Regions from separate parts of the Homo sapiens genome. Here region 1 is linked to region 2. A link means that fine-mapping ties the variant in region 2 to the plasma level of a protein whose gene starts in the linked region. Region 2 holds a variant in brackets. A gene starts in the other region. All regions are shown on their forward strands.

Evidence for each region. PIP is the posterior inclusion probability: the model's chance that the variant is causal. Protein levels are from antibody-based Olink assays in UK Biobank. Linkage for the fine-mapping came from a reference panel and not from the study's own genotypes, which makes the PIPs less certain.
Region 1: it holds the start of FCRL6, and the variant in region 2 is fine-mapped to the plasma level of the FCRL6 protein (UK Biobank, PIP above 0.99).

What each region holds. Positions count from the first base shown.
Region 1 is chr1:159,800,736-159,806,107 of GRCh38, forward strand. It overlaps FCRL6 (Fc receptor like 6), which reads left to right and starts at 1,625. Exons shown (of 10, transcript NM_001004310.3): 1 at 1,625-1,720. The coding sequence starts at 1,690. LOC105371464 (a long non-coding RNA gene) reads right to left here. Exons shown (of 3, transcript XR_922195.2): 1 at 1,803-5,372; 2 at 1,213-1,412.
Region 2 is chr17:35,473,750-35,479,130 of GRCh38, forward strand. SLFN12L (schlafen family member 12 like) reads right to left here. Exons shown (of 5, transcript NM_001363830.2): 3 at 5,368-5,381; 4 at 4,326-4,436; 5 at 1-1,736. The coding sequence ends at 1,174. Among named protein-coding and RNA genes, the nearest start is that of SLFN13, 28 kb to the left of the region's middle. The variant G/A (reference allele first, on the strand shown) is at 2,824.

The DNA.
Region 1 (5,372 bases), not on the chromosome of region 2:
TCAGACAATCTAGGGCAAGAAAACTTAGAAAATTCTCTCTGTCCATTCCTGGCCTCAGCAATAGGCACATCAAATTCCATCAGACTATGTAGAACTTCTCACTTAAAGATTTCCAGGAAGAACTTTACTGTCAGAAAATGCTTAGCCAGGCATGGTGGTGCATGCCTGTAATCCCAGCTACATGGGAGGCTGAGGCAGGAAAATCACTTGAACCTGGGAGGCGGAGGTTGCAGTGAGCCAAGATTACACTCCAGCCTGGGCAACAGAGCAAGACTCCTTCTCAATAAAAAAAAGAAAAAAGAAAGAAAAGAAACAAGAAAATGAAAATGCTTCCTAGTATTTTGCCTGACTCTGTGTTTCACCGTGAACTCCCATGTTCTGTCCACAGAGGAGATGAGAATGTGTGACCTCTTTTTCTGTTGAGGGAACATTGAATAATTTCCAGTTTTTATCTATTACAAATGATGCTGCTATGAGCACTCTTGTATATGTTTTTTCAGGCTTATATGTATACATTTCTGTTTGACATTTACCCAGGAGTGAAAATGCTGAGCCATCAGGGATCCCTGTGTTTAGTTTTGGTAGATTCTGCCAAGCCATTTTCTAGTGACTGTACCAATTTATATTCCCACTAGTGGTGTACAAGAGTTCTAGTTTCTTCACATCCTCACCAATACTCAGTAGAGGATTGCATGGGGAGGGTCACGGGCTCCCCCAGACCCAGCTCAGTCTCAGCTGGTATCACTCCCTTATTCTTATGGAAGGTGTAGTGGTATCTTATTATGGTTTAAATTTGCATTTCCACGGTGATTTATGATGTCTAGCTCCTTTTGCTATGTTGATTTGACACGTGGATATCTGCTTCTGTGAAGTACCTATCCAATTATTTTTGCCCATTTTTCTAGTATGTTGTCTGTCCTTTTCTTACTGACTTGCAGAAATTCTTATATTTCTTCTGTGGGCCCTTTGTCAGCTACATGTATTTAAACTATCTCATCACACCACAGCTTGCCTGTTCCTTCTCTTAATGGTGTCTTTTAAGGAATAGTTCTCAAAATCATACTGACAGTCTTAAAAGCCTCAGATGCCGAAGCTCCATCTGTGTTCTACTCCAGACTCATCGATGTCTGATTCCCTCCTGAACTGAGGATCCTGTGAAGCATCCTCAGGGCTCCACTTCTCCATCGCATTGCAGCATCCACACACATTTACCTCTGGAGACAGGAGCTCCTTGGAAGCTGGGAGGTCACTCGGTGGTCAAGGGGTAGATGATCTTAGTTTTACAGTGCTGCGCTGTCTCCCAGGCTGAATGACGCTGAAGCCAAGCAAATTCGGGCAGTCTCTGGACCTTTCTAATGGAGGTGTCCCATAACCATGTTCCATCCTAGTTCCCTGGCATAGGCTTGTTGAAGCTGCAGAAAATGTCAGGGATTTATTAGTGATTTACCGACTCCTTCATACTTAGTGTTCAGGAAAATTTATTCATGTAATACTTCTTCAACCAAAGAGGAAATATCAATTAGAGCTTTGTAAGTTTCTTTTCCACTTCCTATTTTGGCTATCAAGCTATAGCACCACCCAGCTCAGGCCACCCACCCACCTTCGGTCCTGAGGCCTGGTTGCTCTCTGCCGGCTTCGCCCTGACCTGTTTCTGACCTGTGTTCCCTCCGCTGTGCCAGAACAGGCCCCATGCTGCTCTGGACGGCTGTGCTGCTCTTTGGTAAGTCAACGAGCATGGGCATCCCCTCTTGGAGCACTAAGGACCGTAAGTCATCCCTGAGACACCAAGTTCCTCATCTTACCTTTCCCAATTCCAGTGGGTTTGTGGCTGGAGCTCAAGACAGGTGTGTGCACCTGGGCATGCTTGGGAGAGATGGGCACTGGGGTAGGAGAAACTCCTCAGTGTTTCCTACCCCGTAGTCCTGGGTCCTTGGCAGCGCAGCCCTTTGATATGTCAGAGATAAATTAGGGAGGCAGAAAATCACATTACAAAGTCCCCTAACTTCCCAATGACATTTCTACCTTGTGACATCAGGTTAAAATACTAATCAGAGCTGTCTCAAAAGGAAATGGAGGTTGCAGGAGGGAAGGAGGCTGCTGGGGGCAACAGGGAAGGAGTCAGGGAAATGAGGGGAAACAGTCCCAGGCATTTTGCTCAGCAATGGGAGGTGGAATTTTACAGGGTGACATATTTTTATGGAGCCTCAGCATTTTCTTAGAACCAGGTAACAATGGCCAGACCTCTCACCTGGTTGAAAGGCCTGTGCTCTGAGTAACCAAAGCCCTTTTCAAATTGACTGTCTCTCTTCCGCCTACATCTTCTCTCTGTTGGGAGCTGTTTCAGATCCATGGGGCTGGTTTGAAGAATCAACTCCATTGTCTGATCCATGTCTCTCTCTCTCTTCTCTCCATTTCTTCTCATGCAGGCTACTTGTAACTAAGAGAGCTGGTCTAAGGGTAGAGGATTGCACGCAGAGGGTCACTGGGCTCCCCCAGACCCAGCTCAGTCTCAGCCAGTGTCACCCCCCTTATACCTAAAAGAAATAATTTGGCATATATTTTGTTTCACTTTACAGTTTCCAAGTGGACCTACTTTTTGTTTAATTCTTGGTCCCAATAGCTTGCTTGCTATTTGTATTCCTTGAACTAGAAAAGCAAAACTGTTCCTAAATATAACCTCTTCCTGGACAGAGTTTGTGAGAATTTGACCCTGTGAGGAAAATGCCCCTTCCACTCAATGTTCCTTCTCCAGCATAGCATGCTACTCGTGTGTTCTATGAATGGCCATTTGGACAAATGAAAAGGTCTAATGCTCACACTGAGGCGGGGACAGGATAGCCTAATGCCTGGATATACTCCAGGCAGAAGACTCCCAGGGGCAAATGGCACTACCGGCACTACCTTGTAAAAGGAACAGCCCTTGGACTTGTCTAGATACAGTCTGAGAGTGTTCCAGCTTGGAACCCAGGACGAGGATGACAGACAGCAAATGAGGAGAGGAAGGGAATCAGTGACCGGCTGACTGGTGCACAGTGTAATGGAGAATCCAGCACCAGCAAATTTGGTCCCACTTGATGCTCAGGGACCCTGGAAAAACAGCCTAAAACACAGACACTGGGGCTGGGTGTGTAGCAACATTTATCTTACCATAAGTGTAGAGCTGCTATTTCCTCTCTCAAGAGCAGGGTGTGGTCATAATAAATTGGTGGCTATTACTATTATTGGCTGTCAGGGCTCCGGGAGGAAAGGAATCCTGACATTGAGCATGTGGGGACCTGGCTGAATGTGAAATATGTATTTAAAGTTTGGGAAATTAGGCTTAATTTTCTTCTGAGCTGAACATTAGCCAACTTCCCTCCTACCACTGGAGGCTGCTCCCCGCATTCTCACACAGCGTCCATAGGAGGTGTCATGGGGTCCCATACAGCCCTCCCAGCAATGTGACTGCTGCAGCTTGGCACTGCAGCCTGTTCCACAGTGCTAGAGCTCAGTGGTGAGAGAGTTCTTCATGTTGAGCCGAAATCTGCCTCCATGATCCCTCTAGTTTCCATTTCTGTCCTATAAAGTAACTCAGAATAAGTCTCCCCCTTCTTTTAAGCTTAGCCCACCAAGTATTTTGTGTCTTTCCTCTGTTGCATCTTTCCCAGATAAATATCTCCCGATCCCTCAGAAACTTTAAGAGGAAATTATCCTGCTCCTAGAGTTGGCAGGGGCTCCTGCCTTCATTTTTCGGAATTCTATTACGCAACTTGGTTTGACCATAGCTCTTGGCCACTTCATGATACTGTCACCTCATCTTCAGCCTATAGCTAATGGAGGTCCCTGGGCCCTCATTGCAGGAACTGCTGTAAGCAGGTGTCACCCCCTGTGTATGTTCCCAGTTGGCTGCTGTTTTGATTGCAGAAACCAATTTTGTAATCCCACCTCCAAGATCTTGCAGTACCATGGGGAGCAAGTCATTGAGATTTGGGGACAGGAGCTCATTTTAAGTGCATCTATGCTTCCTGAGTGCCTTCTGTCTTGTTTTTGGCTTCAGTAGTCTCAACCCTGTTTGTTTAGCACTTTGTAGCTGCACAATTGTTTTCCAGTGAGGTGGGGAAGGGAAGGAAGACATAACTACAGAGTAAGGTCTCTGTCACTCTGAGGTCAGGCCTTCTTTCTGCTTTCAGTTAATGTAGTAACCACTTTCCCAGGCAGTGGGTCAACATAACCTTCACAACTACACTGTAAGAAAAAAATGACTATTATCATTTCTATTATGTGATATGACAGAATGAGATATTGAAGGCTCTTGGAACTTAGACAACTTGTTCAAGGTCGTACAGAAAGAGGCAAATTCATGACTCAAGTCCAGGTCATCTGATTCCAAATCCTGCATGCTTTCCACTACACCGAGCTCATAGATGGGGGTTAGGGGTGGAGATGGAGGGATGATAAAGAAGAGACTCATTGTTCTGCACACTCTTGAGAGCATATGACTGAGCTGACCCTGAGCTGAATAGAGAATTGAGCTGAAAGATTCCACCTGTGTCCAAAGTAGTGTAGAAAGCAAAGATGATACCATGTGACAGAGCCAAACATCTGCTCTTAGAGGGTTTTCACCCACCCTTCCCAAGGCCATTCTTGCATTTTTTTTTTGGTGTTATGTAAAATACCTAGGACATGCCAGCAATGCAGGACACAAGTAAATGTATGAGGATTGGCTGGACTGACTGCACTCAGCCCTACATTCATTCATTGTTTCACACCTTGCCCCAAAGTCCAGAAGATTCTTCACTGCTTCATATCCAGCTATGACCTTCAATTTCAGGTCTTCCATTGTTTGGGCTATTCAAACCTATCTAACCATATCTGTCATCATTTTGTGAGTTGGCCCCTCTTCCCAGGTCACCTGTTCTCACACATTCACTCATTTAAAAACATGAATGTAGCACATCCAAGATGCAAGCATGATGTGGGATGCATCCAGTTTGTTTGTAGTTCTCTCATTCATCCATGCTGCCTGATAATGTCTCACATCCTTTAATGATTACTCTTTCAGGGGACTTATCCTCCTCAGTCTGGTCACTTCCATACCCTTTTTGCCAGAGCTCTGTGGAGAGATGGGACCACAAGAATCAGGTCCTGCCCTTGCTATATGGGTTCTCCTGTAGATGTTGGAGGTAGGACCCTCAGGCACATTCGTACAAGAGTCTAGTCCTATGTTTTCTACTTTTTGCTTCCCACCTCGTACAATGGGATGCAAAGGAAAACATTCATGCATTTATTCAGCAGATGCTTACTGAACACAGACTATGTTCCAGGCACAGGTCTTGGGCATAGAAAATATAGCAATGAGTAAAATAAGCAGAGTCCCTGCTACTATGGAGCTT
Region 2 (5,381 bases):
CTGGTAGAATTCAGCTGTGAATCTGTCTGGTCCTGGGCTTTTTTTGGTTAGTAATTACTGCCTCAATTTCAGAACTTGTTATTGACCTGTTCAGGGATTTGACTTCTCCCTGGCTCAGTCTTGGGAGGTTGCATGTGTTCAGGAATTTATCCATTTCTTCTAGATTTTCTAGTTTATTTGCATAGAGATGACAGAGTCTTGCTCTCTTGCCCAAGCTGGAGTGCAGTGGTGTGGTCTTGGCTCACTGTAACCTCCACTTCCTGCGTTCAAGCAATTCTCATGCCTCAGCCTCCCGAGTAGCTGGGACTACATGTGTGTGCCACCACACTTGGCTAATTTTTATATTTTTAGTAGAGACTGGGTTTCACCATGTTGCCCAGGCTGGTCTTCAACTCCTGACCTCAAGTGATCCATCCAACTCGGCAAGTTCTCCATTTTGATTCATCTCTTCATTGGCTGCATTTCATTGCAATATAGTTTTCAAGAAGATATTAGAGAACTATGTTTTCCATGTCCATTGGATAAGAATGTCTGATATTTCCTTTATAGTCAAATGACATCTTGGTATGGCAAAACATGTGTAGGTAATTAATTTTTCTAATTTCCCTTAAGGAATATCTATAAAGAACTTAGGAAGAAGCGAACATAGGCTAATCCCAGTTTTCCAACATCACGTCAAGTTGCCTAACTTGCAATGTTTTCAAAGACGTATTTTTAGAGAATTAGAGAATGTTACCAAATATATAATGAAAAATATCTCTGTAGCCCAGTCCATCTTCCATGATTCAAGTGAGCCTTGGACAAGATTTAAACATCCTTATCTATACTGATTATCTGGGAGATGCTGGAAATGTCAAAGGCTAATTGGTCTATAAAAGAATTGATTCTCCAGCCGGGCGCGGTGGCTCACATCTGTACTCCTAGCACTTTGGGAGACCGGGGGGGGGGGTTGAATCACGAGGTCAGGAGTTCAAGACCAGCCTGGCCAAGACGGTGAAACCCCATCTCTGCTAAAAATACAAAAAAAAAAAAATTAGCCAGGTGTGGTGGCAGGCACATGTAATCCCAGCTACTCGGGAGGCTGAGGCAGGGAATTGCTTGAACCCAGGAGGCAGAGGTTGCAGTGAGTCGAGATCGTGTCACTACACTCCAGTCTGGGTGACAGAGTGAGACTCATCTCAAGAAAAAACAAACAAACCAACAAACAAACAAACAAAAACGAAACAAACAAACAAACAAAAAGATTTGATTCTCCTTAGGTAAGATATTTGAAAGGGCCTTTTCCAAGTCTTTCATTGTTTGAGCTGTTGTCCAATAGTAGGATTCAGGGTAAATTACTTGCGAGTTTAAATCATACTGGCAGCTTGTCTTGCCTTCAGGGCTCAAGTAGAAGATCTTTGTCATGACACACACTTTTTTAGTGTAACCACCAATTTTTGCCAGCTTCTGTTTTAAAGTTTGGGCAGTTTGTGTAGAATAGTCTTTAAACTCCTCATCCTGTACCATGTGGAAGGTGTATAGGACTGGAGGCTTGTCCTGGGAAATCAGAAGAGCATCACAGAGGACTTTGTGGTTCTCTTGCAAGCCCAGATCCAAAGACCAGCTCCTAGAGAAGATCAGTGAGCCCTTATTGACAGAGCCCATTTCTTCACATATTAATTGCTTAAGTCCTTCATGTTGTGAGAACAGATTTCTGCAGAAGGTTTTTGGAGCACAAGTTATCTTTTCTGATAGCCCTAGATGGGGAAATAATGATAAATTATAAAAGACTGAGAACTTCCAACTTAAGCCATGGATACAAAGCAGCTTGTATTAGATTAATTCTCCCACCAAAAGCAACTATAAAAGCTATGTAAAAGTGTATCAGGGCCAGGCATGGTGGCTCACACCTGTAATAACAACACTTTGGGAGGCAGAGGCAGGAGGATCACTTGTGCCCAGGTGTTCAAGACCAGTCTAGGCAACACTGTAAGACCTCTTCTCTACAAAAAGGTTACAAAGTTAGCCAAGCATGGTAGTGCATGCTGGTAGTCCCAGCTACTTGGGAGGCTGAGGTGGGAGGATCACTTGAGCCCAGGAAGTTGAGGCTGCAGTGAGCTGAGATCATGCCACTGCACTCCAGCCTGGGCAACAGCATGAGATTCTGTCTCAAAAAAATTCTACATATATATATATTTTTTTAAATTTATATATATGTATATATATATATCATAAAACTATAATTTAAAGGACTGGAGAGCAACCAATACAAGCAGGACTTAAAGGGCTACAATCTTTAATACAGAAGAATCACAGGAAGTAGCTTCACATTCACCTCTGCTTTTTCCCTAAGGAGATTTTCCATATCACAGCATGGGTAAATAGAGCCCATGCAGAAATCAGCAGTTTTACTGGGCTAAAGAAAACAGAGGTCAGACTTCAGGGCTGCCAGAGGAGCTGGGATTTCAGAAACAAAATCCCAGAGAAGATGAAACTGAAGAGAAGAAGCCAAAATCTACCCACAAATTTCCCTCAACTCACTGGCTAATACAGGTGAGATGCTAGAAACACAGAAGAAAATATCAACTAGGGCTGGGTGTGGTGGCTTATGCCTGTAATCCCAGCAGTTTAGGAGGCCGAGGCAGGTGGATTGCTTGAGCCCAGGAGTTTGAGACCAGCCTGGGCAATATGGTGAAACCCTGTCACAAAAAGAAAGAAAAGAAAGCAAGGAAGGAAGGAAGGAAGGAAGGAAGGAAGGAAGGAAGGAAGGAAGGAAGGAAGGAAGGAAGGAAAGAAGGAAGGAAGGAGAAAATATCAACTGATCAACTGGGAGATTAAAGAGCT[G/A]AACATCACTTTCATCAGCCTCACGGTGCTCAGGAAACACAAATTGTAATTCAACTCCCAGCCAAGTAGAAGGGTCTTGGTAAATACCCCAGACTTTAAGACCCCAGAAGAGCCATGACCTAGTAATTAGTGCAAAATTAAAAGCTACTATACCTAGAAAAGCATAAAACAAAACTTCAAAAGAGTAAAAGTTATCACTGGTGTTCTGTCTGCCAAAAAAAAAAAAAATGTGTAACCCTATCTGAAGAAATGTAACATCTACTAAAGTCTCTACAATTTGTAATCCATAATACTATACAAAATTAAGAGACAGGATAAAAATCAGAACAAATTACTAGAAAATAAGAGAAAAACTGGATTATAGAAAAAGACTGGCAAGTGCTTCAGACATTGGAGTCATCAAAGAGGGACTTTAAAATAACTGTTACATCTTTTTTAAAACCCCCCAAAAATAAAATAGGTGAAAAGATGAAGATGTCCTGATCCTCTTACAGGCTCAGAAAATTGAAATCAATGGATAAAAATCATCAGGGGTTTGGTGGTCTTAAGCCCCAGTTTGTTCAAGGGTCAGTTGTATGCAGTAATATCCCAGAGGTGGCGATCAGCAGGTGAAACTGAGTTTTCAGTAACTGGATCTAGGAAAAGTGGTTATCCACATGGGATAAAATGAAATAGCCCCCTACATCACCGTTTATGGATGTGGATTACATATTTAAATGTTAAATGTTAAGTGCAAAACTTTAAAATTTTTAAAAGAAAATAAACAGAAATATCTTTATAACCCCGGGGTAGGGAAGGATCTCTTACACAAGGCACAAAGAGCACTAAACCACAAAATTTTTAAATGGCAAGTTTGACTATATCCAATTTAAAACTGCTAGGGAGAATATGCCTTGGGAAAAGAGAAAATGCAAGTCATGAACTTGGAGAAGACGTCTGAAATCTGTACTATCTGTGACTAAACGAGGATTTTATGTTAGAATCTGTGAATTGCTCCTAGAAATCAGTAAGAAAAAGATAAAGCCTATTACAAAAATGAGCAAAAGACAGAATCGCCACTTCATAGAAGATAAAATATCTTCTATGGGAGATATTTTCTTCCATGTATATACCCAAATAAATACCGATTTGACTGAGGAAGAAAAGAAGTTCAAGAGAAAAGAAGTTCAAGTAGAAAGATGAAGAGAGAAGTCTGGCATTGGAAAAGATGTGGCATTTCCAATATATTGCTGGTGGAAGTAAAGTGAGCTATCTACTTTGGAAATAATTTGACATTATCTTATTACTTAAATATTCACACACTGCCTGAACGAACAATTCTACCCCTACTTAGGCACCTAAAGAAATAGAATTTGACAAATTCAATGACTAAAAACACCAAAGAATTTCCATAAACAAAAGAATGTGCTTCCATAACAAATATCAAGACAGAGCTGGTTTGAAGAGAAGGAGGTTTGAACACAGTTACACCAACAACTCCACGGAAGCCAGAATTAAATTACCTGGAAGGTGATATCTCAGTGGCTGAATTTTGAAGTTAATATATTCACGAAGAGGATAACTCTGGGAGACAGGTGATGATGTACTTGCTGGAGAGGGCAGTTCCTCACATACTATGGAATAATGTTAGAAAACAAAAATCACGCTCTTAATTTGGCATGGGAGAGACTCAAGCTAACTAATGCACAGTATACCAAACGTCTACTTAGAACTGATCCTGCATTCCCAATACAGAACATTAGATATTGTGGTTACATATTGTGGTTAGATTCCTAGGTCAGATACAAATTGTAAAATTAACTCTTGATGCTGCTGAAACACTCTATACTTGGAAGGAAAATTAACAGTAAAAATGCATTGATAGCAATTTAATACATTGCCATATAACTGAGTTTATTTTAAAACAAGTTAAAATTAGAAGAATGTGATGGCTAGTGAAGGAAAACTGGGTTTTATGCAGATTCTGAGGAACAAGTTTGCATTTTCAGAGATTTTGTAAGTTGCTAGTTCTGGTCTAATCTCACTGGAGGCTTTCCTTTTCCAAAACCAGATAAAATATCAGCATTATTCTTCTCTTATTGGTACAATTTAGGTTACTCTTTGGCTCATAAATGTGAGAGGAAGAGGGGAAGTCTTTACAGGAAATAAATGGAAAGTGGGTAAAGAAAGATGAAAGAGCAAGCAAGTAAAAGAGTAAGTGTTCCCAAAAGAAAGCAATGGTTAGTTACAGAAAATGAGCCCTGAAAGAAAAACGAAAAGAATTGAACAGGCTTTCCTTGAAAGTGAGTAAAGAAATGGTAGAGAAGAAACATCTAGAATCTTTGCATCAGATAAGGCTACTAAGAGTAGATATTTAGTTATTGTATGGAATATCTATCTTCTAAGTGTGCAGAAGAAAACAAGAGGCAGGGAAGTATTGGTTGTATCCACCAGAGATGTTGAAATTTGAAGACTTTTAATCTTGTCCCTAATCCCAAAGATACAATAAAACCTTCCTGCCACCCAAGCCAAAGGTATCCTTATTGCCAATCCTCCTTCCTCAACCTGGTTCTGAATCC